Linked DNA regions of Homo sapiens: regions 1 and 2 are each linked to region 3. The links come from fine-mapping of genetic effects on gene expression. A gene starts in region 3. Each other region holds a variant in brackets. All regions are shown on one strand. Distances are between the middles of the regions. Region 1 has its middle 23 kb from the start of SLC29A2. Region 2 overlaps TOP6BL (TOP6B like initiator of meiotic double strand breaks). Region 3 holds the start of TOP6BL (TOP6B like initiator of meiotic double strand breaks).

What was found. PIP is the estimated chance that this variant, and not a neighbour inherited with it, causes the effect.
Region 1: its variant is fine-mapped to the expression of TOP6BL in pancreas (GTEx, PIP above 0.99).
Region 2: its variant is fine-mapped to the expression of TOP6BL in whole blood (TOPMed, PIP above 0.99). The same link has a PIP of 0.9 or more in lung and nasal epithelium.

Annotation. Positions count from the first base shown.
Region 1 is chr11:66,389,733-66,399,812 of GRCh38, reverse strand. It overlaps the pseudogene BRD9P1 and the pseudogene RNU1-84P. Among named protein-coding and RNA genes, the nearest start is that of SLC29A2, 23 kb to the right of the region's middle. The variant G/T (reference allele first, on the strand shown) is at 6,266.
Region 2 is chr11:66,797,660-66,808,206 of GRCh38, reverse strand. It overlaps TOP6BL (TOP6B like initiator of meiotic double strand breaks), which reads right to left. Exons shown (of 15, transcript NM_001302084.2): 5 at 7,511-7,566; 6 at 7,105-7,176; 7 at 4,017-4,212. Among named protein-coding and RNA genes, the nearest start is that of RCE1, 41 kb to the left of the region's middle. The variant C/A (reference allele first, on the strand shown) is at 6,169.
Region 3 is chr11:66,740,053-66,750,599 of GRCh38, reverse strand. TOP6BL (TOP6B like initiator of meiotic double strand breaks) reads right to left here and starts at 5,831. Exons shown (of 15, transcript NM_001302084.2): 1 at 5,681-5,831. It also overlaps a transcript of SPTBN2 not described here. RefSeq lists enhancers at 4,973-5,062, 5,503-5,612, 6,104-6,604 and silencers at 5,243-5,342, 5,753-6,142.

The sequences.
Region 1 (10,080 bases), 350 kb after region 3:
AAAACCTGTACAGGAATGTTTGCAGCAGATTTATTTGGAATAGCTCAAAACTGGAAACAACCCAAATGTTGTCCAACAGGCAAATGGTTATATAGCCTGTTAAACAATCAATACCATGGAAGAGTGCTAGCAATAAAAGTGAATGAACTTGGCCGGGCATGGTGGCTCACGCCTGTAATCCCAGCACTTTGGGAGGCTGAAGCAGGTGTGTCGCCTGAGGTCAGGAGTTCGAGACCTGCCTGGCTAACATGGTGAAACCTCGTTTCTACTAAAAATACAAAACTTAGGCCGGGCGCGGCGGCTCACGCATGTAATCCCAACACTTTGGGAGGCCGAAGCAGGTGGATCACCTGAGGTCAGGAGTTCAAGACCAGCCTGACCAACATGGAGAAACCCTGTCTCTACTAAAAATACAAAATTAGCAGGGCATGGTAGTGCACGCCTGTAATCCCAGCTACTCAGAAGGCTGAGGCAGGAGAATCGCTTGAACCTGGGAGGTGGATGTTGTGGTGAGCCGAGATCGTGCCACTGCGCTCCAGCCTGGGCAACAAGAGTGAAACTCCTACTCAAAAAATAAAATAAAATAAAAATAAATAAATAAAAATACAAAACTTAGCTGGGCGTGGTGGTGCGTGCCTGTAATCCCAGCTACTCAGGAGGCTGAGGCAGGAGAATACTTGAACCTGGAAAACAGAGATTGCAGTGAGCCGAGATGGCACCACTGCACTCCAGCCTGGGCGACAGAGCGAGACTCCGTCTCAAAAAAAAGAAAAAAACGGAATGAATTTCTGACACACAGAACAACCTAAATGAACCTGCAGTGGATGCTGCTAAGTGAAAAAGGCCGATCCCAAAATGTTGAATACTGTATGATTCCTTTTTTTTTTTCTTTTTTTCTTGAGACAGAGTCTTGCTCTGTTGCTGAGGCTGGAGTGTAGTGGCTCGATCTTGGCTCTTGGCTCACTGCAACCTTCACCTCCCAGATTCAAGTGATTCTCCTGCCTTGACCTCCTTAATAGCTGGGACTACAGGTACACGCCACCATGCCAGGCTAATTTTTGTATTTTTAGTACAGATGGGGTTTCTCCATGTTGGCCAGGCTGGTCTTGAACTCCTGACCTGAGGTAATCCACCCACCTCGGCCTCCCAAAGTGCTGGGATTACAGGCATGAGCCACCACACCTAGCCTATGATTCCTTTTATATAATATTCTTGAAATGACAAAGTTATAGAAATGGAAAACTGATTAGTGATTGCCAGGGGTTGAGGATGTGGGGAAGGAGAGGGGAATGGGGAAAGAAAGTGAGTATGACCATAATGGGCAGCATGGGGGATCTTGAAGTGATAGCAGTGTTCTGTATCTTGACTGTGTCAATGTCAATATCCTGGTAGTGATATTTTACTATAGTTTTTTGTTTTGTTTTGTTTTTGAGACAGCGTCTCGCTCTGTCGCCCAGGCTCGGAGTGCAGTGGCACGATCTTGTCTCACTGCAGCCTCCGCCTCCTGGGTTCAAGCAATTCTCCTGCCTCAGCCTCCAGAGTAGCTACTGGGACTACAGGCGCGCGCCACCATGCCCGGCTAAATTTTGTATTTTTAATGGAGACGGGGTTTCACCATGTTGGCCAGGCTGGTCTCGATCTCCCGACCTCATGATCCACCCGCCTCGGCCTCTTAAAGCTCTGGGATTACAGGCGTGAGCCACCGCGGCCGGCTTCGGCCTCTCAAAGTGCTGGGATTACAGGCGTGAGCCACTGCGCCCGGCCTCGGCCTCTCAAACTCTGGATTACAGGCATGAGCCACAGCGCCCGGCCTCGGCCTCTCGAAGCTCTGGGATTACAGGTGTGAGCCACCGTGCCCGGCCAATATTGTACTATAGTTTTGCAAGATATTATCAATGGGGAAAACTGGGTAAAGGATCGCTCTGTATTATTTCTTTGAACTGCATGTACATCCACAATTATCCCAAAATAAAAAGTTTAACGGCCAGGCGTGGTGGCTCACGCCTGTAATCCCAGCAGTTTGTGAGGCCGAGGCAGGTGGATCACTTGAGGTCAGGAGTTCAAAACCAGCCTGATCAACATGGCGAAACCCCGTCTGAACTAAAATACAAAAATTAGCCGGGTGTGGTGGTGGGCGCCTGTAATCCCAGCTACTTGGGAGGCTGAGGCAGGAGAATTGCTTGAACCCAGGAGGCGGAGGTTGCAGCAAGCTGAGATTGTGCCACTGAACTCCAGTCTGGGCAACAGAGTGAGACTCTGTCTCAAAAAAAAAAAAGTTTAACTAAAAAAAAAAAAAAAAAAAAAAAGACAGGGAGTCCAGTCACAGTGATTCACACCTAGAATCCTAGCACTTTGGAAGGACAAGGTGGGAGGATCGCTTGAGCCCAGGCGTTCAAGACCAGCCTGAGCAACATAGTGAGAACTCATCTCCACAAAAAATTTAAAAATTAACCAGGTGTGGCAGCGTGTACATGGAGTCCCAGCCACTCAGGAGGTTTGGGCTGGAGGATTGCTGGAGCCCAGGAGGTTGAGGCTACAGTGAACTATGATGTGCCACTGCACTCCAGCCTGGGTGACAGAGTGAAATCTTGTCTCAAAAACAAAAACAAAACAAAAAACAAAAAAACAGGCCAGGCACAGTTGCTCACACCTGTAATTCCAGCACTTTGGGAGGCCGAGGCATGAAGATCATTTGAGGTCAGGAGTTCGAAACCAGTCTGACCAACATGGTGAAACCTTGTCTCTACTAAAATACAAAAATTAGCTGGGTGTGGTGGCAGGCACCTGTAATCTCAGCTACTCGGGAGCTTGAGGCAGGAGAATCTCTTGAACCCAGGAGGCGGAGGTTGCAGTGAGCTGAGATCATGCCACTGCACTCCAGCCTGGGCAACAGAGTGAGACTCTCTCAAAAAAAAAAGAAGAAGAAAGAAAAAAAAAGAAAACAATAAAACCCCACCAAAACCAAATAAAACCAACAAAACACAGGGCACGTGCTCCAATTCTCCCATACAGCCTTTCCCTGAGCTCCATACAGTTTCTCCATCTGGTGTCATTGGCTCCACAGAGTAATAAGAGACAAGAAGAGGATTGCTTAGACTGCAGCCTGGTTTGGCTGGAGAATCTTTTCTCAGTCTGGGCCACACTGTAAACCATAAGGTTGGCTGTAACAAATTACCACAAACTTAGTGACTTAACAAACTTTTTTTTTTTTTTTGAGATAGGGTCTTACTCTGTTGCCCAGGCTGGAGTACAGTGGCACAATCTAGGCTCATTGCAGCCTCGACCTCCCAGGCTCAGGCAATCCTCCCACCTCAGCCTCCTAAATAGCAGGGACCACAGGCATCCACCACCATGCCTGGTCTTTAAACTGGTGATTTTAACCTTGAGTGCTTGGTTAAGGCAGTGTTTGCTCTGAGTTCCTCCACTGCAAAATAACTACGTTTCTCTTTGCAATTAATAAATATATTTTGAGGAGCAGCTGATGCTTTTAACTACCCTGGAGAGTTTAAAGAAAATGAAAAGCTCTGGCCAGGCACGGTGGCTCACACCTGTAATCTCAGCACTTTGGAAGGCCTAGGGGGGCAGATCACAAGATCAAGAGATCAAGAGATCAAGACCAGCCTGGCCAACATGGCGAAACCCCGTCTCTACTAAAAATACAAAAATTAGCTGAGTGTGGTGGCGCACCTGTAGTCCCAGCTACTCGGGAGGCTGAGGCAAGAGAATCGCTTGAAACCGGGAGGCAGAGGTTGCAGTGAGCCAAGATCACGCCACTGCACTCCAGCCTGGCAACAGAGTGAGACTCCATCTCAAAAAAAAAGAAAGAAAAGCTCAGGTCATTAAATGCTTGGCTCAAGACACAGAGCACCAAGTACTTCGCATGCCTGCCGTATGAGAATTTCTTACCCCTCTAACCACAGGGCTGCTGCAGCTGCAAATCAAAGGTATAATTAACAAATAAGTTAAATTCATACTATTTCCAAGTCTTTTCTGTGAAATCTAGGGCATTGATGGGAAAGTCTGGAAACCTCAAGAATTCAAATGACAACTTTAAAAGGAATCAGATAACTCCAAGTATCATGCACCTTCAAATTATATGCCAATTGAAGTATATAATGACCTTACCAGGGGATACCAGTTTTCTTCATGCCCAGTCCCTACCTATTGATAGTATTAATTCATGTGAATAATAAGCTACACATATTTAAAGTATACAATTTGGCCAGGCGCGGTGGCTCACGCCTGTAATCCTAGCACTTTGGGAGGCCGAGGCGGGCAGATCACCTGAGGTCAGGAGTTCAAGACCAGCCTGGCCAACATGGCGAAACCCCCATCTCTACTAAAAAAAAAAAAAAAATACAAAAATTAGCCGAGCGTGGTGGTGTGCACCTGTGAACCCATCTACTCAGGAGGCTGAGGCAGGAGAATCACTTGAACCTGGGAGGCGGAGGTTGCAGTGAGCCGAGATCGTGCCACTGTACTCCAGCCTGGGCAACAGAGTCAGACTCTGTCTCAATAAATAAATAAATAAATAAATAAATAAATAAATAAATAGTACAATTTGATAAGTTTTGACGTATGTGTATACCCATGAAACTGTAACCACAATGAAGATAATGAACATATCCATTACCTTCAAAAGTTTCCTCTTGACTTTTTTTTTTTTTTTTTTGAGACAGGGTCTTGCTCCCTTTATCGGGCTGGAGTGGAGTGGTGCGATTAAAGCTCACTGAGCCTCAGACTCTCAAGCTCAAGTGATCCTCCAACCACAGCCTCCCAAATAGCTGAGACCACAGGCGTGCACCACCACACCCAGCTAATTGTTTTACTTTTCGTAGAGAGGGGTCTCACTATGTTGCTTAGGGTGGTTTCAAACTCCTGGCCTCAAGCAAGCCTCCTGCCTCTACCTCCCAAACTGCTGGAATCACAGGCATGAACCACCATGCCCAGCCTCCTCTTGACTGTTTGTAATCCTTCGTCTACCCCCTGCCCAGCCCTATCTCTAAGCAACCACTCACCTGCCTTTTGTCACTATAGATTATTTTGCATTTTCTAGTATTTTATATGAATTGGATTATACAATGCATACTATTTTTTTTGAGGGGGGAATCTGCTTCTTTCAGCATTAGTATTTCGTGATCCACCCATGCTGTGTATGTATCAATAGTTCATTACTTTTATTTATTTATGTTTTAGACAGTTTCACTCTATCACCCAGGGTGGAGTGCAGCGGCACAATCTCAGCTCACTGCAACCTCTGCCTCCTGGGCTGAAGCGATTCTTATGCCTCAGCCTCCTGAGTAGCTGAGATTACCGGCACCCACCACCATGCCCAGCTAATTTTTGTATTTTTAGTAGAGATGGGGTTTTGCCATATTGCCCAGGCTGGTCTCCAACTCCTGGGCTCAAATGATCTGCCCGCCTGGGCCTCCCAAAGTGCTAGCATTACAGGCATGAGCCACTGTGCCCGGCATCATTGCTTTTAAATTGTGAAAAGTATTCCTGTGATTTGTTTATCCCTTAACCTATTTATGGACATTGGGTTGTTTCCAGTTTTGTGCCATCACAAATAAAACTACTATGAATATTTTTGTACAAGTCCTTGTTTGGACCTATGCTTTAATTTCTTTGGAACTATACCTAGAAGTGAAACGCTGAGTCATGTGGTAGTATGTGCTTAATTTTTTCAGAAACTGCCAAATTGTTTTTCCAAAATGTACCACTTTACATTCTCATCAACAGAGTATAAGAGCTCTAGTTTCTCCTTCATAGCCAACACTCAGTATAGTCAGTCTTTTTAATTTCAGTCATTCTAATAGGCGAGTAAGTGGTAGTTCATTGCATTATTTAAAAAAAGAAATTTGACACAGTAAGCCAGGCATGGTGGCTCCCGCCTGTAATCCTGGCACTTTGGGAGGCTGAGGCAGGTGGATCACGAGGTCAGGAGTTCGAGATCAGCCTGGCCAATGTGGTGAAACCCTGTCTCTACTAAAGATACAAAAAATTAGCCAGGTGTGGTGGTGCGCACCTGTAATCCCAGCTACTCAGGAGACTGAGGCAGGAGAATCGCTTGAACCTGGGAGGTGGAGGTTGCAGTGAGCCGAGATCGCATCACTGCATTCCACCCTGGGCGACAGGACAAGTCTCCATCTCAAAAAAAAAATAGAAAAGTAAAGAAAAGAAAAAAAAGAAAGTTGACACAGGAGAAAGCGCAAATGCAGTCCCCCACTGCCACAAACAACGCAGTTGAGTTTCCCACGTTGAG[G/T]GAAATTGCAAGGGTTAGCACACCTGGAGTGCAATGGATGCACCTCACCCTGGGAAAACCACCTATGTGATCATGGCATCTCCCCTGCCAGGTAAGTCATTGTGGTTTAAATTTGCATTTCTCTAATGACCAATGACATTGAGCATATTTTATTTGCTAACTTATCATCTATATACCTTCCTTGGTATGGTGTCCGTTCACATCATCTCGTTTTTTTGTTGTTGTTTTATTTTGTTTTTTGAGACAGAGTCTCACTCTGTCAACAGGCTGGAGTGCAGTGGTGTGATCTTAGCTCACTGAAACCTCCGCCTCCCAGGTTCAAGTGATTCTCCTGCCTCAGCCTCCCAAATAGCTGGGACTACAGGCACGCACCACCACACCCTGCTAATTTTTTGTATTTTTAGCAGAGACGGGGTTTCACCCTGCTGGCCAGGCTGGTCTCGAGCTCCTGACCTCAAGTGTTCCACCAGCCTCAGCCTCCCAAAATGCTGGGATTACAGGTATGAGCCACCGCACCCAGCCAATCATCTCCATTTAAAAATGAGGTTGTCTGAATTATTATTACTTAGTTATATGAGTTATTTTAATATATTCTAGGTCCAAGTCCTTTGTCAGATATATGTTTTGCAAATATTTTCTCCCAGTCTGTGGCTTGTCTTTTTATATTCATAACAGTGTTTTTTAAAGAGCTAAAGTTTTTGTTTTTGTTTTTGTTTGAGACGGAGTCTCGCTCTGTCGCCCAAGCTGAAGTGCGGTGGCGCGATCTCGGCTCGCTGTAACCTCAGCCTCCCGGGTTCAAGCGATTCTCCTGCCTCAGCCTCCTGAGTAGCTGGGAATACGGGCTCATGCCACCAAGTGCGGCTAATTTTTTTGTATTTTTAGTAGAGACAGGGTTTCACCATGTTAGCCAGGATGGTCTCGATCTCCTGACCTCGTGATCTGCCCGCCTCGACCTCCCAAAGTGCTGGGATTACAGGCGTGAGCCACCGTGCCCGGCCAAGAGTTAAAGTTTTTAATTTTGGTGAATTCCAATTTATAATGTTTTCTTTTATGGATCATGCTTTTTGGTGTCATAACTAAGAAAATGGTCCCTTAACTAGATCAAAAATATTTTCTCCTATGTTTTCTCTTAGAAGTATCATTTGTAGGCCCGGCACGGTGGCTCACGCCTGTAATCCCAGCACTTTGGGAGGCCGAGGCAGGAGGATCACGAGGTCAGGAGATCGAGACCATCCTGGCTAACATGGTGAAACCCCGTCTCTACTAAAAATACAAAAAATTAGCCAGGCGTGGTGGCAGGCTCCTGTAGTCCCAGCTACTCAGGAGGCTGAGGCAGGAGAATGGCGTGAACCCGGGATGTGGAGCTTGCAGTGAGCCGAGATTGAGCCACTGCACTCCAGCCTGGGCGACAGAGTGAGACTCTGTCTCAAGAAAGTAAAAGTATCATTCATATAGTGCTTACAAGTAGATTTGCTGTCTCATACTCCACTGTTTTGATTACAGTTCACTTGTAGTCTAGATTAGGGTTTGTATTAGAAATATGCGCTTAGAGGTTTTTTGTTTGTTTTGTTTCTTTGTTTGTTTGTTTTTAAATGGAGTCTCCCTCTGTCGCCCAGAGTATAGTGGCGTGATCTCGGCTCACTGCAGCCTCCGCCTCGTGGGTTCAAGCAATTCTCCTGCCTCAGCCTCCTGAGTAGCTGGGATTACAGGCGCCCAACACCACGCCTGGCTAATTTTTGTGTTTTTAGTAAAGGTGGGATTTCACCATGTTGGCCAGGCTGGTCTTGAACTCTTGACCTCAAGTGATCCACCCACCTTGTCCTCTCAAAGTGCTGGGATTACAGGCGTGAGCCACTGCACCCGGCGTACTTACAGTTTTAATTAGAAATGTAAAAATGTTATTTCTTCTGATTTTAAAAATAGAAAATGTTCTCGATTTGGTTTTTAATTCATTTATTTTTAATTACATAAATGACATCAGAGAACAATCTCTTTGTACAAAAAAGAACAAAAGCACATAGAATGGGGAAGCGAAAATCACTGACAAGCACTGTTGATTCAAGAAATCTGGTTTAGCTCACCATTTACGTGTTATTTTCTTGTCTTTATTTTTTTCTTTTTTTAAATTTAGAGACAGGGTCTTACTCTGTCACCTGGGCAGAATGCAGTGGCAGGATCATAGCTCTGTGCAACCCCAGACTCCTGGGCTCAAGCAATCCTCCTTTCTCATCCTCCTGAGTAGCTAGCACTACAGGTGCATGCCACCATGCCCAGGTAATTTTTAAAGTTTTTGCAGAGACAGGATCTCACTATGTTGTCCAGGCTAGTTTCAAACTCCTGGGCTCAAATGATCCTCCCTCCTCGGCCTCCCAAAGTGATGGGATTACAGGCATGAGCCATTGTGTCCAGCCTTACATATTATTTTCACGATTCATTAATCTCCATTTAAAAAAAAATGCTGTATACAGTATGCTGTTGATATATTTTTTCCGTAGCTGTTTTTCTTATTCCAGAAATAACATGAAAGTCTTTGTGTTGGCCGGACGTGGTGGCTTACGCCTGTAATCCCAGAACTTTAGGAGGCCAAGGCGGGTGGATCACCTGAGGTCAGGAGTTCAAGACCAACATGGTGAAACCCCGTCTCTACTAAAACTATAAAAATTAGCCAAGTGTGGTGGTGGGCGCCTGTAATCCCAGCTCCTTGGGAGGGTGAGACAGGAAAATCGCTTGAATCTGGGAGGCGGAGGTTGCAGTGAGCTGAGATTGCGCCATTGCACTCCAGCCTGGGCGACAGAGTGAGACTCTGTCTCAAAAAAAAAAAAGAAGAAAGAGAGAGAAAGAGAGAAAGGAAGAGAGAGAAAGAAAGAAAGAAAAGAAAGAAAGAGAGGAAGGAGGGAAGGAAGGAAGGAAGGAGGGAGGGAAGGAAGGAAGGAAGGAAGGAAGGAAGGAAGGAAGGAAGGAAGGAAGGGAGAGAAAGGAAAGAGGCCGGGCGCGGTGGCTCACGCCTGTAATCCTAGCACTTTGGGAGGCCGAGGCGGGTGGATTACGAGGTCAGAAGTTCGAGACCAGCCTGACCAACATGATGAAACCCCTATCTCTACTAAAAATACAAAAATTAGGCGGGCATGATGGTGCACACCTATAATACCAGCTACTGAGGCAGGAGAATCACCTGAACCCGGGGGACAGAGGTTGCAGTGAGCTGAGATTGTGCCACTGTACTCCAGCTTAGGCGACGGAGCAAGACTCTGTCTCAAAAAAAAAAAAAAGAGAGAGAGAGGGAGAGAAAGAAAAAGAGAAGAAAGAAAAGAAAGAAAGAAAATTCTTTTTGTCACCACAAAAACTTTGTACGTGCAAGTTTAAGTTTAAAAAATAATTCAGAGGATTCAGGCTCTGGAGACAGAAGAAATTCCTATGAGTTACGACTATGTCTTATTGTTCCCTGAGAGGAGGCTTCCCAGGTGGTGCAAAGGCTTTCGGATGTGTTAGAAAACTGAGGTTGAAAGACCTCCTCATCACGTCTGCGTTTCCTAAAGATATTCCAAGAGTTTAGCTGTTGTTTCTCATCTAACTTCAAATGGCTTTCGCCATGGTGCAATTTCTTTTGTACTTTCCCCAATGAACTAAGCATGGAAATAGCAAAAGAAACATACAATATGATTTCTTTGACATAAAGTCCAGAACAGAGCTGCTAGCATCTCCAAGGGAATCACCAACCTTGGCTTCATCTGTAGGTCAATGGAATGTTTCTCCTCTGCTTCAGCTGGAAAATTATCTTGGCATGATCCCACTTGTAATTGAGTCCTGCCACTCAT
Region 2 (10,547 bases), 58 kb before region 3:
GTCCCAGTGGGTGTTTCTGTGATTTTGTTTTTGCTAGCTCTTGTTCATATTATCTTGTCCTTTCTTACACCTGGTTATTTGTGACTGTGCATGTGTGTGTGCATATGCACCATGGGACACTGTATTTGAAAAAGTGTTAAATAATTGGGAGCACAGGATGCAGTTATTTTCCTCTAGAAATTTTTGTTTGCTTCTATAAAACATCTAGAACTAACAAATCTAAAATCATCCTAATCCAATTTCAAAGTTCAAGATTTTCTGGCCTGCCTAGATGACCAAAAAGCATATACAGTCCATGTGAAGAGTAATTTATTTCAGGTTCACCTTACTCCTTAAAATATAGCCTTCTAGTTATCCCTTGCCCAAGGCAAGAGGTGTTTTTAGCAGCACTCCCAAGCTCAGCAGGTCCTGGATTCTTTGGCCTTCTTGTCCTGCACTGATTTGGAAGTATTAATACATCTTAGCCTCTCAACTGCTTGCTCTAATTGGCAAACTGCTCCAGGGCAAAAGCATCCCCCAATGCTAGGCTCAGCTCTCTGTAATTCAAACCTCTCCTAAATCATGGCACAGAAACTCTTCCTCTTCACTAGCTCTTTGATGCTTTTATGATTTTTTTGTTTGTTTGTTTGTTTTTTGAGATGGAGTCTCACTCTTGTTGCCCAGGCTGGAGTGCAATGGCGCGATCTCGGCTCACCGCAACCACCGCCTCCCAGGTTCAAGAGATTCTCCTGCCTCAGCCTCCTGAGTAGCTGGGATTACAGGCATGCACAACCATGCCTGGTTAATTTTGTATTTTTAATAGAGACAGGGTTTCTCCATGTTGGTCAGGCTGGTCTCGAACTCCTGACCTCAGGTGATCCATCCACCTTGGCCTCCCAAAGTGCTGGGATTACAGGCGTGAGCCACCACACCCGGCCTGCTTTTATGATGTTTTAATATTTCATCTAGCCTTTGCCTTCATTGAGAAGGTTGGTCTAAATTATCAAGTTTGCCACTTTCAGAAAGTAAAATCTCAACAGAATTTTCATAGCTAGCTCTCTCTCTTTTTTAAAACATCACCTCCTTAGAGGCTTCACTGCCCATATTTAAAATAACATCTCCATCATTCTCTACTACTTTGTTCTATTTATCTCCACTGCACTTATCACTACCTAATATCTATCTGTTAAATTTTCCCCAAGAGGACAAAAAATTTGTCTGTCTTATCCCTTCTAGATGATGGAATGAGGAAGAAGAAGAAACTTATTTATTCTATACTGTTCTGTACTATCTAGATATAAAGAAAAAGCATGTTTTAAAATAGAAAATGTCCAAGCATAGTCTTCATCACTATCCTGCTCCCTCCACCTCCCTAAAAGATACTATGGTATCTTTTGATATCTGATATGCAACATCAGATAGCTGACATCTATCATACCACGCCTCTTCTGTTCTCTCTTTTTTTTTATTTTGAGACAGAGTCTTGCTCTGTCGCCCAGGCTGGAATGCAGTGCTCACTGCAACCTCTGCCTCCTGGGTTCAAGTAATTCTCCTGTCTCAGTCTCCCGAGTAGCTGGGACTACAGTCATGTGCCACCATGTCCAGCTAATTTTTGTATTTTTAATAGAGACAGGGTTTTGCCATGTTGGCCATGCTGGTCTCAAACTCCTGACCTCAAGTGCTCCGCCAGCTTCGGCCTCCCAAAGTGCTGGGATTACAGGCATGAGCCACCGTGTCCGGCCTGTTCTCATTGTTTATAATTTTCTATAACTTCATTTACTCCTATAGCTTCAATCATATGACAATAACAATTATTAATATTATTGAGTACTCATTATATGCTAGGAGCTTCACATGGATTATTATACTTAATTCTAAAACGAGCAAACAAACCCCAAAAGAACAGAAAACCAATTTTTGCAAGGGAAACTAAACCTATGAGATAAGTATCATCCTCATTTTAAAGCAGAGGAAGTAAAGGCTTAGGCTGGTTAAGTGAGTTGCCTACAGTCACACAGCTAATTAGTAGTGAATCCAACATTTACACTCCTGTGCCATGCTCTAAACACAGCACTACACGACTCTTACCTATGGAGGAAACTGAGACTCTAAAATTCTGTATCTCTAAATCTGACCATTTCCAAGTTCCAGACCAAATTCCTATATAGCTCCTTACTATGTTCAAAGGATGTCTTGAGACACCATAAACTCAACATGTTTAATGTCAAACTCATCTTCTTTATCTCCTAAATCTGCTATTAATGTTTTTTTATCTTGCTGAAAGTATCATTATTCTGTCAGTTATTCATGGAAATATTTTTAAATAGCTTTATTGAGATACAATTCACATACCATACAATTCACTCATTTTAAATGTGTAATAAAATGGATTTTAGAATATTCAAAGAGTTGTGCAGTCACTACCACCATCAATTTTAGAACACTTTCATTACTCTGAAAAGAAGCCCCTCCAGGCCGAGCACAGTGGCTTATGCCTGTAATCCCAAAACTTTGGGAGGCCGAGCCTGGTGGATCGCTTGAGTCCAGGAGTTTGAGACCAGCCTGGGCAACATGGTGAAACTCTGTCTCTACCAAAAATGCAAAAATTAACTGGGCATGGTGGCATGCACCTGTGGTCTCTAGGAGGCTGAGGTGGGAGGATGGTTTGAGTCCGGGAAGCAGAGGTTGCAGTGAGCTGAGATTGTGTCACCGCACTCTGGCCTGTGCAACAGAGCCAGACCTTGTCTCCAAAAAAAAAAACAAAAAAGCCCCTCCATCAACTTTCTCTCTGTATTTGCCTATTCTAGACAGACATAGAATAGAAATCTGACATCAACCTTAGACATTCCCTGCCCCTAATCTCTCCCTACCTTAATAATGAACTGGTTACCACATTTTGTTGATTAATTCAGGTGATAAGTCTGGCCTTTCCGTGCCTACCACACTTTAGATTCAAGCACTCATTATTATTGTTATTTTATTTTTATTTTTTCTGAGGCAGAGTCTTGCTCTGTCACCGAGGCTAGAGTGCAGTGTCGTGTTCTTGGCTCACTGCAGCCTCCACCTCCCAGGTTCAAGTGATTCTCCTGCCTCAGCCTCCCAAGTAGATGGGACTATAGGCGTACACCACCACGCCTGGCTTTAATTAATTTATTTTTTTGAGACGGAATCTCACTCTGTTGCCCACGCTGGAGTGCAGTGGCTGCGATCTCGGCTCACTGCAACCTTTGCCTCCCAGGTTCAAGTGATTATCCTGCCTCAGCCTCCTGAGTAGCTGGGATTACAGGCGCCTGCCACCATGCCCAGCTAATTTTTGTATTTACTAAGATGGGGTTTCACCATGTTGGCCAGGCTGGTCTCCAAGTCCTGACCTTGTGATCCATCCGCCTCAGCCTCCCAAAGTGCTGGGATTACAGGTGTGAGCCACCACGCCCGGCCTAATTTTTGTATTTTTAGTAGACAGGGTTTCACCATATTGGCCAGGCTGGTCTCAAACCCCTGACCTCAAGTGATCCGCCCACCTCGGCCTGCCAAAGTGCTGGGATTACAGGTGTAAGCCACTGCACCCAGCCGTCAAGCACTCATTATTTTTAATCCAGTTCACTTACTTATTTACTTAGTATTACTAACTTCTGTCTCCCATCCGTACTCTATAATGCTGCTAAAGACTTCTCCCAAAACATTCAATGGTTTCTTACTATACAGAGAATAAAATTCACAATCCTTAGTATGGCACTCAAGATCTACCATATTCAACTCCAGACTACTTTTCTAGTCCCATCTCTTCCTCGTGCACCATTCATTTCATGCTTCAGTCATATTGGATTGTATGAAAAACGCATGGCATGTGTCACATTTTACAGTTTTCAGTTCCCTGGCAAAATTTTCAAGCTTGGCTTTCACATTAGATTATATGTTTTTATACAAATCATATATATTTGTAGATGCAGAATTCACATACTAAAGGCTTTCCTAAAACTGGGATATAAAAACCCATTTCAAAGATAATTGGATGGAACTTTTCATCAAAAGGATATGGAAACTGAAGAAATCCTGTTAAGCTGGTTGGAAGAAACCTTTGGGCTGGGGCACAGTGCAGCTGCTGGAGTCAGTATCAGTTCTCCCAACAAGTCCATGCCAGCCACGTCTTCAGGGATGAAAAGCATTACTGGATGTCCTAGCACAGGGTGAATTCTGCTGCAGTGTGATTCAATTGTACCAAAATTTGGTCTACTGTCAGAAAACAGACAAGTCAAATTTAACATTTTTTCCTCTTAAGAAATTATTTAAAAGAGCATTCAAAATTATTTTTGTAACCTCTAGCATATGTACAACCACACAACCTGCCATATCAGTTTTGTTGGAATAAATAACTTATGTCTCACTCAGGGAATCACAGCAATGGAAGTAGTAGAAAAACTGGCATTTCAGAGATATCATTGCTCCTGCTTTTGCTGCCACTAACGGATGCTTCTTAGTTTCTCTTTTTAAAAAAACATTTTAGACCAGGCATTGTGGCTCATGCCTGTAATCCCAGCACTTTGGGAGGCTGAGGTGGGTGGATCACTTGAGGTCAGGAGTTCAAGACCAACCTGGCCAACATGGTGAAACTCCATCTCTACTAAAGATACAATAGCTGTGCATGATGGTGCACACCTGTAATCCCAGCTATTCAGGAGGCTGAGGCAGGAGAATCGCTTGAACCTGGGAAGCGGAGGTTGCAGTGAGCTGATATTGCGCCACTGCACTCCAGCCTGAGCAACAGAGCGAGACTTTGTCTCGAAAAATAATTACTATTATTTTATTTTATTAGAGATGGGGTCTCACTATGTTTATTAGGCTGGTCTCAAACTCCTGGCCTCAAGCAATCTTTCTGCCTTGGCCTCCCAAAGTGCTGGGACTACAGGTGTGAGATATCATGACCAGCCTGTTTCTTATTCTCAAGTATACTTCCTCCACTAAAATTAATCTTTGGTTCTGAGCAAATTTCCAAATTCATTCAAAGGTCAGCATTGTGTGAGGGGGCCCATGAATCACAAATGGCCTAAAACTGGCCCCATGATACTTATAAGTCTGCTCTCACGCATGCTACACCTTCCGCTGAAGAGGTCTGAGGTTGCTGTTTGATAGTAACAATGAGAAAAAACCAGGCCATCTTTCTCTCCTAGAAAGAATCTAGTAAAATTTTGTTACTTTCCAATAGCTCTTTTCTAAACAGAGAGAAAACAGTCAACCTGAGAAAGCTGATTAAGAATGAATGAATTAATTAATAGAGAGGAAATATTAATGAACCTTTCCCTTTGTCTCTAATCAGGTCATCCAAGGAAACACATCTACAAAAATTGGCTCAAAGGCTTAAACTTGTGTCAGTACAACTATGATGATGAGCTGCTACCTGTAAGGATTGTTTATTATTAGAGGATCACTAAAGAAAGATATGGGGTGGGGAAATTATTACCTGCATATTAAATGACAAAAATATTCTCATCTGAGGTGTAATTTTGGGTGAGAATAAGAAAACAGACTAAGAACCACAGGCAGTCTCTTTAAGCCTTAAGAGACTTTGACTACTAGTGTTGCCTCTGGGCACATAAATAGAGGCAGAAACTAATGAATAAAGACTAAATTAGGGCTGGACACATTGGCTCACATCTGTAATCCCAGCTCTTTGAAAGGCCGAGGCAGGAGGATTGCTTGAGTCCAGGAGTTTGACACCAGCCTAGGCAACAACCTCATCTCTACAAAAAAAAATTTTTTTTAAATTAGCAGTATATGGGCTGGGCGCAGTGGCTCATGCCTGTAATCTCAGCACTTTGGGAGACCGAGGCAGGAGGATCACGAGGTCAGGAGATTGAGACCATCCTGGCCAACATGGTGAAACCCCATTTCTACTAAAAATACAAAAAAATTAGCTGGGCGTGGTGGCATGCACCTATAGTCCCAGCTACTCAGGAGATTGAGGCAGGAGAATCGCTTGAACCAGGGAGGTGGAGGTTGCAGTGAGGTGAGATCTGCACTCCAGCCTGGGCGAAAGAGCGAGACTCCGTCTCAAAAAAAAAAAAAATTAGCAGCGTATGGTAGCATATTTCTGTGGTCCTAGCTACTAGCTACTCGAGAGGCTGAGGTGGGAAAATGACTTGAGCCCAGGAGACCAAGGCTGCAGTGAGCTATGATGGCATCTGGGTTGAA[C/A]AGACTGAGACCCTGTCTCAAAAAAAGAAAAAATAAATTAATTGGACTTAAGCATATGTTAGGTCTTTTCTTGACATAATTCATTTTCACTTTGGATTCTGTGGTAGTTAAATGGCACAGGAAGGCAAGACAGAAGGGCTCTGTGTGTTCCATATTGTTTACCACCTCCTCCATGGATTTTTTACATTTTTTATTTATTTATTTTTTTTGAGACAGAGTCTTGCTCTGTCGCTGGAGTGCAGTGGCGTGATCTCGGCTCACTGCAACCTCCACCTCCTGGGTTCAAGTGATTCTCATGCTTTGGCCTCCCAAGTAGCTGGGATTACAGGCATGTGCTACCATGCCCAGCTAATTTTTGTATTTTTAGCAGAGACAGGGTTTTGCCATGTTGGCCAGGCTGGTCTCAAACTCTTAACCTCAAGTGATCCATCAACTTCAGCCTCCCAAAGTGCTGGGATTATAGGCATGAGCCACTGCGCCTGGCCAGATTTACTTTCTTGGAGTCTGAAGAAGATGGAGATGGGCAGAGAGATGATTTCCAAACCTATGCAAAATGCTGATGCACAGAAAATAATGTACACTGAATTCCTTTGTATTCATACTATCTCTCTAGCCAAGAATTCAAGTAAAGTTTTAAATTCATAGTCTTCTCTTCTCATGCCTAAATGGGATTGGAACTAGCAGGGTCTGTGTAAAATAAGGCCTGAAGAGAAGAAGGCACATGTCTTCAGGTCATTTAGAATAGATTCAAATACATAAATAACTTAAAATAGCAGTTTTCAACATAAAAAAAAGTTTTACTTCTGCTTTTCTTATAGAGAAGCTGACACCTGGCACTTACAAATGACAAGTGAGACAATTTCCAATTTCTACCCACATTCGTACTCGAGAGGAGAGTAAAACATGCAGAGGGACAACAAGGCTTTACGCCTTCACCTCACATAATGCTGGGAGTCGACCAAAAGAGCAATTCCATTCCCAAGGTTCAAAGTGGGTTCATTCTCCACCCTGCAAAGCAAAGCAAAGCTAAGCCATCTCTCAAAGATTCTAAAATCAATCTCTGTTTGACATAAATTTTGGCCCATGACTACTACCACCCCAGCGATTACTAGAATTCAGTAACTAATTAACCAAGGGGAAAATGGCAATCTTTAAGTTTACCCCCTCTAGAGACAGGGATGAATCTACTAAAATAATAAAATGTGGGGGTGTCAGAAAATTAGTTTCAAGGTGACTTTGGGTCAAGATATCAAACTGTGAACCTTTTGGAAATAGGACAATAATAGCTGAGAAAAATTGCAGAGCCATAGCATCATCTTAAGCCATAGACCTAAGAACTTACCCAAAGATCTCTGTGGAGAGGATTCCATTTACCTTTACACTGAAATGAAATCTGACCTGCAAAACAATAAGTTAAGTGTGAGATTTAACATGAGCCAAGATACAGATTAAAAACTTCCATATCTAATCCCTAAAGGAAAAGAATAAGCTTAAAAAATTTTAAATTAACATTACTTTTAATTGATAAACTATAACTGTATACATTCATAGGGTACAATGTGGTGTTTTGATATATGTATATAATGTGGAATGATTAAATCAAGTAGATTAACATCTATCACATAACTTACTAGCATTTTTTGTGGTAAGACATTTGAAATTTACTCTCAGCTATTTTGAAATATATAATACATTATTATTGACTATAGTCACCCCCCTGTGAAATAAGATTCTAAAGACTTATTCCTCCTGTCTAACTGAAACTTTGTACACTTTAACTAACAACTCCCTATTTCCTTCCTTAACCCACTCCCAGCCTCTGGTAACCACCATTCTATTCTCTACTATGAGTTTGACTTTTTCAGATTCCACATATAAGTGAAATCATACAGTATTTGTCTTTCTGTTGATTAAGAAAATGTGGTATATACACAATGGAATACAGTTAGTTTTTTGTGGTTTTTTTTTTTTTTTGAGACAGGGTCTTGCTCTGTTGCCCAGCCTGGAGTGCAGTGGTGTGATCTTGGTCTCCCAGGCTCAAGTGATCCTCCCACCCCAGCCTCCTGAGTAGTTGGGACCACAGGCATGTGCCACTACACCCAGCTACTTTTTGCATTTTTTTGTAGAGACAGGGTTTCACCATATTGCCCAGGCTGGTCTTGAACTCCCAAGGTCAAGTGATCCTCCTGCCTCAGCCTCCCAAAGTGCTAGGATTATAGGAATGAGCCATCATACCCAGCCTAGTCAGCCTTTAAAAAGAAGGAAATCCTGTCATTTGTGACACGGATGAACCTAGAGAAACAAGACTTTTTTTTTTTTTGAGACGGAGTTTCAGTCTGTCGCCCAGGCTGGAGTGCAGAGTGCAATGGCGCAATCTCGGCTCACTGCAACCTCCGCCTCCTGGGTTCAAGCAATTCTCCTGCCTCAGCCTCCCGAGTAGCTGGGACTACAGGCACGCGCCACTGTGCCCAGCTAATATTTGTATTTTTAGTAGAGATGGGGTTTCGCCATGTTGGCCAGGCTGGTCTTGAACTCCTGACCACCCAAGTGAGTGATCCACCCACCTCGGCTTCCCAAAGTTTTACTTCTGCTGGGATTACAGGCATGAGCCACCGTGCTCAGCCAGGAAAAAGACATTCTTTTTTTTTTTTTTGAAATGGAGTCTCACTCTGTCTCCCAGCCTGGAGTGCAGTGGCAAAATCTCAGCTCACCGCAACCTCCACCTCCCAGGTTCAATCAGTTCTCCTGCCTCAGCCTCCTGAGTAGCTGGGACTACAGGCACGCGCCACCATGCCCAGCTAATATTTGTATTTTTTTTTTTTTTTTTTTTTGGAGACAGAGTCTTGCTCTGTCACCCATGCTGGAGTGCAATGACACAATCTCGGCTCACTGCAACCTCCACTTCCCAGGTTCAGGTGATTCTCCTGCCTCAGCCTCCTGAGTAGCTGGGATTACAGGCGTGCGCCACCATGCCCGGCTAATTTTTGTATTTTTAGTAGAGACGGGGTTTCGCCATGTTGGCCAGGCTGGTCTCGAACTCCTGACCTCAGGTGATCTGCCCACCTCGGCCTCCCAAAGTGCCGGGATTACAGGCGTGAGCCACTGTGCCCAGCCAATATTTGTATTTTTAGTAGAGACAAGGTTTCACTATGTTGGCCAGGATGGTCTCAATCTCCTGACCTTGTGATCCACCCACCTCGGCCTCCCAAAGTGCTAGGATACAAGCGTGAGCCACCACGCCCGGCCAAAAAATACATTCTTTATCACTTGTATTTTCCCTAAACATACTTAATGCTTGCCTGTGTTTAAATTCTAAATCTTAAATATATTGAGCCCTATATCACAGCTCCAGGTTGTCACAAATTATCAGAAATCATCCCTGCCTCTTTGCCATTCTCTCAACCCCTATCCCTTAACTTTTTTTTTTTTTTTTTTTTTTTTGAGACAGAGTCACTTTGTCACCTAAGCTGGAGTGCAATGGTGTAAACACGGTTCACTGCAGCCTCAACCTCCTGGGTTCAAGCGATTCTCCTGCCTCAGCCCCTCAAGTAGATGGGACCACAGGTGCATGGAACCACACCCGACTAATTTTTGTATTTTTAGTAGAGACAGAGTTTCACCATCTTGCCCAGGCTGGTCTGGAACTCCTGAGCTCAAGCAATCCGCCCAAGTCGGCCTCCCAAAGTGCTGGGATTACAGGTGTGAGCCACCACACCCAGCCCCTTCACCTCCTTTTTAAAGGAACTATCCATTTTTATTTCTATTATTTTCATATGTGGAACATTCCATGCTTTTTTCTTTGCTTTTTCTTCCTCTTCTCCATCTGACTTTTATATCCTCTCCAGTGTACCTCACTGTTCTAATTATTCTCTCCATTCACCTATATTTTTCTTTCTGTGTAACATAAGGTAAGAAGTGACTCTAGAACCAGACTGCCTGAGTTCAAATCCTGACTCTTCAAGTTATTTACTCTCTGTACCATAGTTTTCTCAGCTACAAAATGCGGATGATGATGATAAAACTTACTTCACAAGGGGTGTTGTAAGAGTTAAGTGAGCGAGTGCACAAAGAGCACTTAGAATAGTGACTGAAACAATAGGCAAAAAGTAGGAAGATGGCAGAAGGGGGATGTCATAGATATGCTTAAGTGTTTATCTTTATAAACATATCTAACTACAGATAATAAAAAATTTAGCTCTCTAATATTCAAAATATTCTATCAAAATTTCTTGGCCAGGCATGATGATGGCTCACGCCTGTAATCCCAGCATTTTGAGAGTCTGAGACAGGTGGATCACTTGAGGCTAGGAGTTCAAGATCAGCTTGGCCAACATGGCGAAATCCCATCTCTACTAAAAATACAAAAATTAGCGAGGTGT
Region 3 (10,547 bases):
AGAGATGGGGGAAGCACGCAGGGTACTGTCGGGTTTTTTGTTTGTTTGTTTTGAGATGGAGTCTCACTCTGTCACCCAGGCTGGAGTGCAGTGGTGCGATCTTGGCTCACTGCAACCTCTGTCCTCCCAGGTTCAAGTGATTCTCATGCCTCAGCCTCCCGAGTAGCTGGGATTACAGGTGTGTGCCACCACAACCCGCTAATTTTTATATTTTTAGTAGAGACAGGGTTTCTCCATTTTGGACAGCTGATCTCGAACCCCTGACCTCATGTGATCTGCCCACCTCAGACTCCCAAAGTGCTGGTGTTACAGGCATGAGCCACTACACCCAGCCAAAACCATATGTGTGTGTAACTGACAAAAACTAAAACTAAATAAGTGTACATTTTTTTACAAAAAAAATGAAATAGATCCCTTATGCTAACATGAAATGCTGCCCACAAAGTACTGGTACATAGCACAGTCATATGTATAGTATAGTTCTAGTTCTAAAAAATGGATATTGATAACTAAGAACGTAGGCATAGAAAAATCTAGAAGACAGATTATCCTTGGCAAGTAGGGGGAAAAAGGAAAATCTAGAATATATACTCAATGTTAATAATCATCTCAAAGGCGTGAGATGTGTAGAAAGTCTCACTCTCCACAATATATGTTTCTGTAATGTTTTTTATCAAGCATGTATCACCACGTTTCCTACCCAAAAAAAATATATAAACATAGGCTGGGTGCGGTAGCTCACGTTTGTAATCCCAGCCCTTTGGGAGGCAGAGGCAGGTGGATCACTATCACTTGAGGTCAGGAGTTTGAGACCAGCCTGGCCAATATGGTGAAACCTCCATCTCTATTAAAAATACACACACACACAAAATTAGCCAGGCATGGTGGCAGCTGCCTGTAATCTCAGCTACTCAGGAGGCTGAGGCAGAATTGCTTGAACCCAGGAGGCAGAGGTTGCAGTGAGCCCAGATTGCGCCACTCCAGCCTGGGCGACAGAGTGAGACTCCATCTCTAAATAAATAAATAAATAATTATAACCATAATTACTTAAAGCTCAGAGACAATAAAGAGAAGAGAAATGCCCCCTATTCTAGGTGGGCTAAAGAAGTTCATCAGGCTCAAAATGCAGAATCGAGTTTCTTGCCAAAAACTACTGTGGCTAAAGTCCTTTGCTTTGAATTAAATCAACCTTGCTACCCTGGCCAGAGTTTATTGGATTAGACTATTACAACCACACACAGACCAACCATCACCCTAGACACGTAGCCAAGCATTTCTCTCAAGAGTGGTGGGAACCCTGCCAGTCAGAGTGCAGTTCATGCAGAGTAAGAGCAAACCAACCTGTCATACTGCTCTTGAAGATGTTTAATATTAATACACAAAGACAAGACAGGTCATTCCTGTTCAGGTAAGCAAATGTCTTGTAAAGCCTAGTTCACTATCCAATCTCAACTTGGTGCCCAAGTGACTTCTCTAAGCCTGAAGGGGCAACTTCAATCCAAAGTACCCTTCAATAAACCTACACACACACACACCACACACACACACACAAAAAGCTAACACTTCAAGTTTAAGAAAATTCATGCTTCAGAGCCACTCACTGCATCAGGTTTCCCTCAAAGACAACAGGCAAAAATGATAAAAGCATGAAAGCCAAATGGAAGAGATATTTTCAAACTAATCACAGTATGCACCATTCATCATTTTTCCTTTTTTTTTTTTTTTTTTGCTACTGCCAAAATTTAGACTTGGGAAAAAAAAAGTAGGTAAAGCTCAATGTAATATAATTTAGCTGTGACAAAGTAGATTAAAATCAAGAGAAAAATAAGATTGTTTCTGAGCAATTTTAACTTAAACCAGTAAAATAAATAATCTATGGTAAGAGTCATTCAACTACTCACCTTTCCTGTATGATACATTTGTAAATCTACCACCAGACACTTATTACATAATCATTTCATTTTATAATTATGGAACAATCCTGGAATAACATGATAAAAGATTCTAATTGAAATTTTTAAATAAGCTACGACATAAACCATGACAAAAGAGATAGAAAATATTTTTTCTTTCTCTACTTACTAGTTGTTACACAATGAAGAGCATTTGCCTGGTGCTTAGAATTTAATCCTTCTATGGAAATCACTAGCTGCCCTTCTAGCAATGCTCCCTTTGATACATCTATGTCACACTTCCAGTGAATTATTAAAAATCTCAAAATCTGAAAAGAGCACAATTCAAAGAAAACATAATCTTCTTTAGAAATCACAGTAATAATACATCTCTATGACCCAGTTAAATTAGTAACTCTAATTTCCCCCCAAAAATTGTATTCTTGCTTCTAAAATGTCAGATTTAGGTTTGTTCAGAGTATTGTGTCTAAACAAAATAAATAGCTAGGAGAGTGACATAAGAAAAGAGTCAGTGAAATTCAACATAATGCCCAGTAAGACAGGAAATTGAGACAATAAATTCCTTTATTCAGAAGATAAATTCATCTGGAAATAATAATTAGGGAAAAATTAAGTGGGAGTTTGTTTTTCTTGTTTCTTTTTTCCTGCCCCAAATAAAAGCCAACATGAAGACTATGAATAAGAGTGGCATCTGGTTATGAATCATCTTGATCTTTCATTAAATCAACACTTTTGAGGGTCAGAATACTATTTAAGAGTGCTAATGCTGCCCTGCGCGGTAGCTTATGCCTGCAATCCCAGCACTTTGGGAGGCCGAGGTGAGAGGATCACTTGAGCTCAACAGTTTGAGATCAGCCTGGACAACATACGCAGACCTTATCTCTACTAACAACAACAAAAATTAGCCCAGCGTGGTGGCGTGTGCCTGTAGTCTCAGCCACTGGGGAGGCTGAGGCAGGATGATCTCTTGAGCCCATAAGATTGAGGCTGAAGTGAGCCCTGATCAGGCCACTGCACTCCACACCTGGATTTGAATCCCTGATGTGCCAAATTCTAGCATGTGACCTTGGGCAAATTACTTAATCTCTCCAAACCACAGACTCCTCATCTATTAAAATGGGGATAAAACTACCACATAGGGCTGCTGCTGAAAGTAAACAAATAAGGTACGTGCAACGCTGAGCGCAGTGGCTCATGCCTGTAATCCCAGCACTTTGGGAGGCCAAGGTGGGAGAATCGCTTGAGCCCTGGAAACATAGTGAGGCCCCATCTCTACTAAAAAAAAAAAAAAATTAAATAAAAATATGTGCAAAATGCTTAACACAGTACTTGGCAAATAGCAAATGCTTAACAGATATTAGCTATTATTTCTAAGTTCTAATGCAGTAAAGACTACACACAATATTTTAAGTTGAACAGGACTCCAAGATGTCTGGGTAAAACATTTAATCGACCGGGTGTGGTAGCTCACACCTGTAATCCCAGCACTTCGGGAGGTTGAGGCGGTGGATCACCTGAGGTCAGGAGTTCAAGATCAGCCTGGCCAATATGGTGAAACCCCATCTCTACTAAAAATACAAAAATTAGCCGGGTGTGGTGGTGTGTGCCTGTAGCCCCAGCTACTTAGGAGGCTGAGGCAGGAGAATTGCTTGAACTCGGGAGGTGGAGGCCACAGTGAGCCAAGATTGGGTCACTGCGCTCCAGCCTGGGCAACAGCAACACTCCGTTTCAAAAAGAAAAAAAAAAACACATTTATTCGAGACAAATTGAAAATAAAATATATTTCATTTATTTTTGGGGGGAGAGAGGGGACAGAGTCTCACTCTGACTCCCAGGCTGGAGTGCAGTGATGGCATCATCATGGTTCACTGCAGCCTCAACCTCCCGGGCTCAGGTGATCCTCCCACCTCAGCCTCCCAGGTAGCTGGAAGTGCAGCCGCCTGCCACCACACCCTGCTAATTTTTTTTTTTTGAGATGGAGTTTTGCTCTTGTAGCCCAGGCTGGAGTGCAATGGTGCGACCTCAGCTCACTGCAACCTCCGCCCCCTGGGTTCAAGCGATTCTCCTGCCTCAGCCCCACAAGTAGCTAGGATTACAGGCATGTGCCACCACACCTGGCTAATTTTGTATTTTTAGTAGTGACGGAGTTTCTCCATTTTGATCAGGCTGGTCTTGAACTCCCGACCTCAGGTGATCCGCCTGCCTCGGCCTCCCAAAGTGCTGGGATTACAGGCGTGAGCCACCGCTAATTTTTGTATTTTTTTCAGAGACGGAGTTTCCTCATGTTAGCCAGGCTGGTCTTGAACTCCTGATCTCAAGTGATCTGCCCGCCTCGGTCTCCCAAAGTGCTGAGAATACAGGCTACCCACCGCGCCCGGCCAACTCCCATTATTATTCATGCAAACAGATTCTCACTTTTACAGGGAGGCAACACAAGGAAAATTATTACCCCCTTTTTAAAGGCAGGGAGATCTGGGAACTAAGATCCTCATTTGTACCAGTTAACAAGAATGGTTTCCAGGTACGTGTAGAGTCTAACTATTCCTTCACACGTCCTCTGTTACGATATTCCCATATCGGGCCGGGCACGGTGGCTCACGCCGGTCCCAGCACTTTGGGAGGCGGAGGCGGGCAGATCACTTGAGGTCAGAAGTTCAAGACCAGCCTGGCCAACATGGTGAAAACCTGTCTCTACTACAAATACAAAAATGAGCCAGGTGTAGCGGCGTGCGCCTGTAATCCCAGCTACTCGGGAGGCTGAGACAGGAGAATCCCTTGAACCCGAGAGGCGGAGACTGCGGTGAGCCGGGATCACGCCACTGCACTCCAGCCTGGGCGAAAGAGCGAGACTCCGTCTCAAAAAACAAACAAACAAACAAACAAACAAACAAACCCTAAAGATATTCTCATGTCGGTATGACAGCGCAGTTGGGAAAAGAACACTGGCCTATGAGTCAGCGCCCTGGGTTCTAGCCTAGGTTCGGTTATTTGTAAAATGGAATCCCGCCGCCTTCTTTGATGACAACAAACAGGCAGGACGCCCGGGGGTACTCTCTCAGGTGCCCTCAGAGCCTGTGCTTCTGTCACCTGCCCAGTACCCCTCACAAACAGCAGCTCAACGTCCCATTGGGCACCGGCCGTGAAAGTGGGTAATGAAATGAGCACACGGGGCGTGGCCGGCGCCAGGCGCTCAGTGCCGTCTTCCAGAGCAGCTCCCCGAGCACAGGTGTGGCCTCTGAACCTCGCCCTTCCACGTCCAGCTGCTTCGAACCCAGAAACCTGCACCTGCACCGGGGCCTAAAAAAACTCTCCCTCGCTCCCAGTCTGCACTGGGTCCCTCCTTGCCTCTGTCCTGGCGCCCCGACTCCCCCCACCCCGCCCCGCAACGCCAGGGCTTGCCCCATTCCTTTCCTTCTTTCCGCGCCCCCTCCCAGCACCCGGTGCATGGAAGGCGCTGGGCTCCGGCAGGCACCTCCGAGGCTGCGTCAGGCTCTGCCCCTGGGTGTCCGCCGGTGCTCGGCAAACGCCGCAGCTTTCTGAGCCGTAGGCTGGAGAGAGGGCGTCGTTCCCCCACAGAGTACCCCGCGAGCGAGAGCCCTCATCTGCTCCTACTTCCTCGCTTCCCCGTGGGAGACGGGCCTCGATTCCCGAACCTTCCTCCTTCACCTTAGGCGACGCCCGACCCCTCTGCCCAAACTTCGCGGTCTCCTCACAAAGCCCGTCTCCTCAGAAAGTGTCCTCCGCTTTCTCTCCCTTCCCAGCATCACCTCGAACACGGCCACGGCCGTCCCCTCCATGCCGCGCAGGGAACAGCGGCAACGCCCAGTCGAAGGGTACCCGCCCGCCGCCGCCGCCGCCGCCGCCGCCCCCTCCTCAGCCCGGGCTTGGAACTCCGCCAGTGCCCACGCCCGAGTCCACGCCCACGCCCGGCAGCGCGAGCCCATCCCTTCCCGCGCGCGCGCCTGCGCCCGCGCACGCCCCGCCCACCTGCCCGCCGCGCCTGCGCACTCGACGCTGCAGGGCCCCGAGACCGCGAACCGCCGCCGGGAGCCACCTAGAGCCTCTGAGCGCCGCGGGTGCCAGTGGGCCCGCAGGTGGGAGGTTCGGGGCGGGGAAGAGCCCGCGAGAGGCGGCCAAGGCTGGAGGTGAGCGGGAATGAGGCCAGGCCACGACTCCTCCCTCCTCTCAAAGATAGTTTCCCACGGTGGCGGCGAGATGCGGCCCTTGGCCCTAATCCGGGCTTTGGCCGCCCTTCGCGCTTTCCAGGACCCTTCCCTCGGCCGGGAGGGGCGACGGTAACGGCGCGGGGCTACCAAGCGGGTTCGTGACCCCTCCAACAGCCTTGTCTGCGGCGGGGGCTGCCCCAGGCCAAGCCCTGGGTCCCAGACTTAGCAAAGAAAAAGACGGCCAATTAAAATTGAATTTCATATAGACAGCGAATTTTTTTTATAACCATACACATATCTCGGCAATTTTTGGGACATATACTAAAAAATTACTAATCTGAAATTAAAAACGACGCCCTGGGCCGGGCGCAGTGGCTCACGCCCGTCATCCCAGCACTTTTGGAGGCCGAAGCGAGTGGATCACCTGAGGTCAGGAGTTCGAGACCAGCCTGGCCAACATGGTGAAACCCCGTCTCTACTGAAAATACAAAAATTAGCCGGGCGTGGTGGCGGGCGCCTGTAATCCCAGCTACTCGGGAGGCTGAGGCAGGATAATTGCTTGAACCTGGGAGGCGGAGGTTGCAGTGAGCCGAGATCGCGTCATTGCACTCCAACCTGGGCAAAAAGAGCGAAACTCTGTCTCAAAAAAAGAAAAAACGACCCCCCGTCTTTTACCTTACAACCAGCCCCAAGCATCTCCCAGCCTAATCCAGGGGGACCAGCTTCCCCCGCAAAGGTGGGACCTGGGAGTCGACCCCTCCCTATCCAGGCCCCTTTCCACGTTTGACTGCACTGAATGTGCCAAGACCAGGAGCTGGCTTTTCTGGGCTCTGGCTGACAGGAGAAGCTCTGGGGTTTTCCAAGTGCATTCCTGGCTGGAATAAGGAGGTCCTGCAGAGTCCCAGCTGCTGCTCTCTGCCAGGTTCCGGGAGGGGCATGGTGACAGGGGCTTAAGCCTATAACTGCTGGTGATCTGACAGCCAAAAGAAAACCCTGATGAGAGATTCCTGCCTGGCAAAGAGTTGCCCAAGGAGAAGGGTGGGACAGGGTGTTGGCTGCTTTCCTTCAGGAAAAATTCTTCCACCCCAGCTCCAAGACGCCAGGATTGGACAGAACAGGCTGGCGAGCTGGCAGAGTGCCTGCCCAGTACACAACCTTGGTGCTACTCCAAAGAACATTGTCTATCGAGACCTGAATCATACCCTTCTCGAGTCTATGCTCAGCGCTCCTCCCCATTCCTCCCCATCTCAGTTGCTCACAGGTAGACCTATTGGAGCAAGGTAGCTTTTATTTCTGGAAAATCCATCGTAACCATCAAACTTGATAAACAGCTGGCATTTGAGGAATCATTGGAGTCTTCCTTTCATTCCCCCCACACCCCCCGCAGAGCTCCCCATCCCCACCCCCAGTCTCTTGTCCTTTTTCAGAAGAGGAGTTGCCAAGGGGAAGGGACCAGTAACATTGAATGACTGCTTGTTGTCGGACCCCACTAGCTCTTTACATAAATGATGTCATCCTCTCAACTATCTTGTAAGAAAATTGTTATCGTCACTATTTTATGGGTGAGAAACCAAGGTATTGAGGATGGTTCTTTAAAATATTTCCCATCGTGGCCGGGCGCAGTGGCTCACGCCTGTAATCCCAACACTTTGGGAGGCCCAGGTGGGTGGATCATTTGAGGTCAGGAGTTCGAGACCAGCCCAGCCAACATGGTGAAACCCCACCTCTACTAAAAATACAAAAATTAGCCAGGCGTGTTGGCATGTGCCTGTAGTCCCAGCTACCTGGGAGGCTGAGGCAGGAGAATTGCTTGAACCCGGGAGGTGGAGGTTGCAGTGAGCTGACATCACACCACTGCACTCTAGCCCGGCTGACAGAGTGAGACTCTGTCTAAAAAAAAAAAAAAATTATCATTGTGAGTGTTGGCCCAGCAGAAAATGCTCCACCTTGAGAATGGCATTGAGAATGAAGATGAGTTGGTTTCCTAGCTTCCAGCCCTTGTCCTTGGAAATGAGCCTCTAGCTTTCAGCCCTTGTCCTTGGAATGAACTTCAGGGATAAAGGTGTAATGGAGCACCCAATACCACCCTAGAGGCAGTGGAGGCCTCTCAAAGGTAGCCAGGGACACAGCTGTCCTCCCTACTGGACATAGGGAGAAGCAAGGAGGGAAGCCTTCGATATGAGGGTTTGCCATCAGGACTTCCGTAGCGTAAACCCACGTATTCAGGCAGCATGCAATATAGGCTTGATATATGGTGAGAATCCACTCTGTGCTAAGTGCTCTTCACTTTTTCTTATTCATCTTAAGCAGTTCTCCCAATTTTGTAATCTTGTAAGAAAGATGTTATCTTTGTTTTAGAAATGATAAAAATGAGAATCCAAGAAGAAGTTGTATGAATAAATCAGGCATGGTGGCTCATGCTTGTAATTCCAGCACTTTGGGAGGCCAAGGCAGGAGGATTGTTTCAGGCCAGGAGTTTGAGACCAACCTGGGCATTATAGTGACAGCCTGTCTCTACAAAAAAATTTAAAAATTAGCCAGGTACAGTGATGCATGCCTACAGTCCTAACTACTTGGGAGGTTGAGGTGGGAGGATCTCGAGCCCCTCGAGTTGGAGGTTGCGGTGAGCTATGATTATGCCACTGCACTCCAGCTTAGTGACAGAGCAAGACCCTGTCTCAAAAAAAAAATTAAAATTTTAAAAACGGTTTTTTGCTCAGACCTCATCCTCAGAACACTAGAATGTTAGAGCCAGAAGGGACTTTGGAAATTATCAGTTATCTATTAAGATGAAGAAATTTGAAGCCCAAAGAAACTAAATGACCTGCCCTTGGTTAAGGTCACCTTAGTTAACTAGGCCAACCAAGGAGGCTTTGAGTATGGCTCTCGATATTTTCAGCCCTGGCCTTCCAGGTCTCATTTATTGGCAGTGTCTGTAGGGAGCCAGTTATTTCCAGTCCTTAGACTGGGTGACATATTGATTCTGCTTCCATTTCTGCACCCACCTCAGAATTTATATTACTGTTTCATGTTGTATTAGTTCATTCTCATGAAGACATACCCGACACTGGGTAATTTATAAAGGAAAGAGTTTTAATTGACTCATTGTTCATCATGGCTAGGGAGGCCTCAGGAAACTTAGAATCATGGCAGAAGGGGAAGTAAACAGATACTTCTTCACATGGCAGCAGGAAGGGGAAGAATGAGTGCCCAGTGAAGGGGGAAGCCCCTTATAAAACCATCAGATCTCTTGAGAACTAATTCACTATCAGAAGAACAGGATGAGGGAAACTGCCCCCATGATTGAATTATCTCCGCCTGGTCCCTCCCATGACACATGGGGATTATGGGAACTACACTTCAAGATGAGATTTGGATGGTCACACAGCCAAACCATATCACATGTCTACTTTGGATATCTTGTTTATTCCAAAAAGAAACCCTCTGTCTGAGACACACTCCCTGCCCCCCTATAAGAAGAGCCCAAGACTGATTCTGACCCAAACTCAAGGGTTTGAGTGGAACCAGAACATCCTAGGGAGTGCTGCCAGATGAACAATGACATTTTAGGGACTGTTGAGCTTTCCTTTTGAATGTGCCCTCTCTGTGTCTCCTAGACACTTCTTAAGGCCCCACCTTGTTTCTTAGGCTCCCCTAGAGCTTTCAAATGCCCTAAAGAGGCTGACCCTAGGAACTTAAGTAGAAAATATCCTTGAGGTCCGCCTTTCCAAGCTGATGCAAAAGGAAGTCCATTTGAAGACTCCCTCCCCTGGGAAAGAACCAAGCAACTATTAAGCTGTTTCCCATCCAGACAGTAGGAAAGGGTTAACTGCTTCTCTCGGGTCCTGAGCAAAGTCTGTCCCATACCAGTTCCCATAACCGGGTTTCCTGAAATGGAGCAGGTCCCAGGTGACTCTCCACTAATCACATCCTTGGAAATGGGGCCATGAGGCTCAGATTAGCTCATCCCTTCACCTTCTTGAGGCCTTCTCCACCTGGAGCACAGAATCTGGGGCAGCTTCACCACTCACCTCCCTCTGCTTTCTTATCAGGGGTCAGACAGGGATGTTCTAGCAGAGGAATATTATTGGGCTAATGGGGGCAACTAGAGGCCATAATGGTGCTGACTTTTGTGCAATTCTTGGACTACAGCATCTGTTCTTCCCCTTTCTAAGACTTAGGGGAAAAGAGAGATTCTTTTCCTGGGACAGTACCAAAGTTTATATAACTCGAGTATTTCGTTCTTCACCCCCATTCCCTGTTTTCTTCCTCTCCTTGAATAACTGACTATGATACTGACTAACTTCCTGTTCTTCCTGGCCAAGTCACCCTTTGCACAAAGTCTGATTTCTCATCCACCAGTAGCAGGTGCTGGGCCAGCCCAGGAGATTTCATTCCTTTCCTATTATTGTCCAATTTTTCCTCTGCCTAGATAGCCAATAAAATCTACATCACAAAGTGGTTCTGC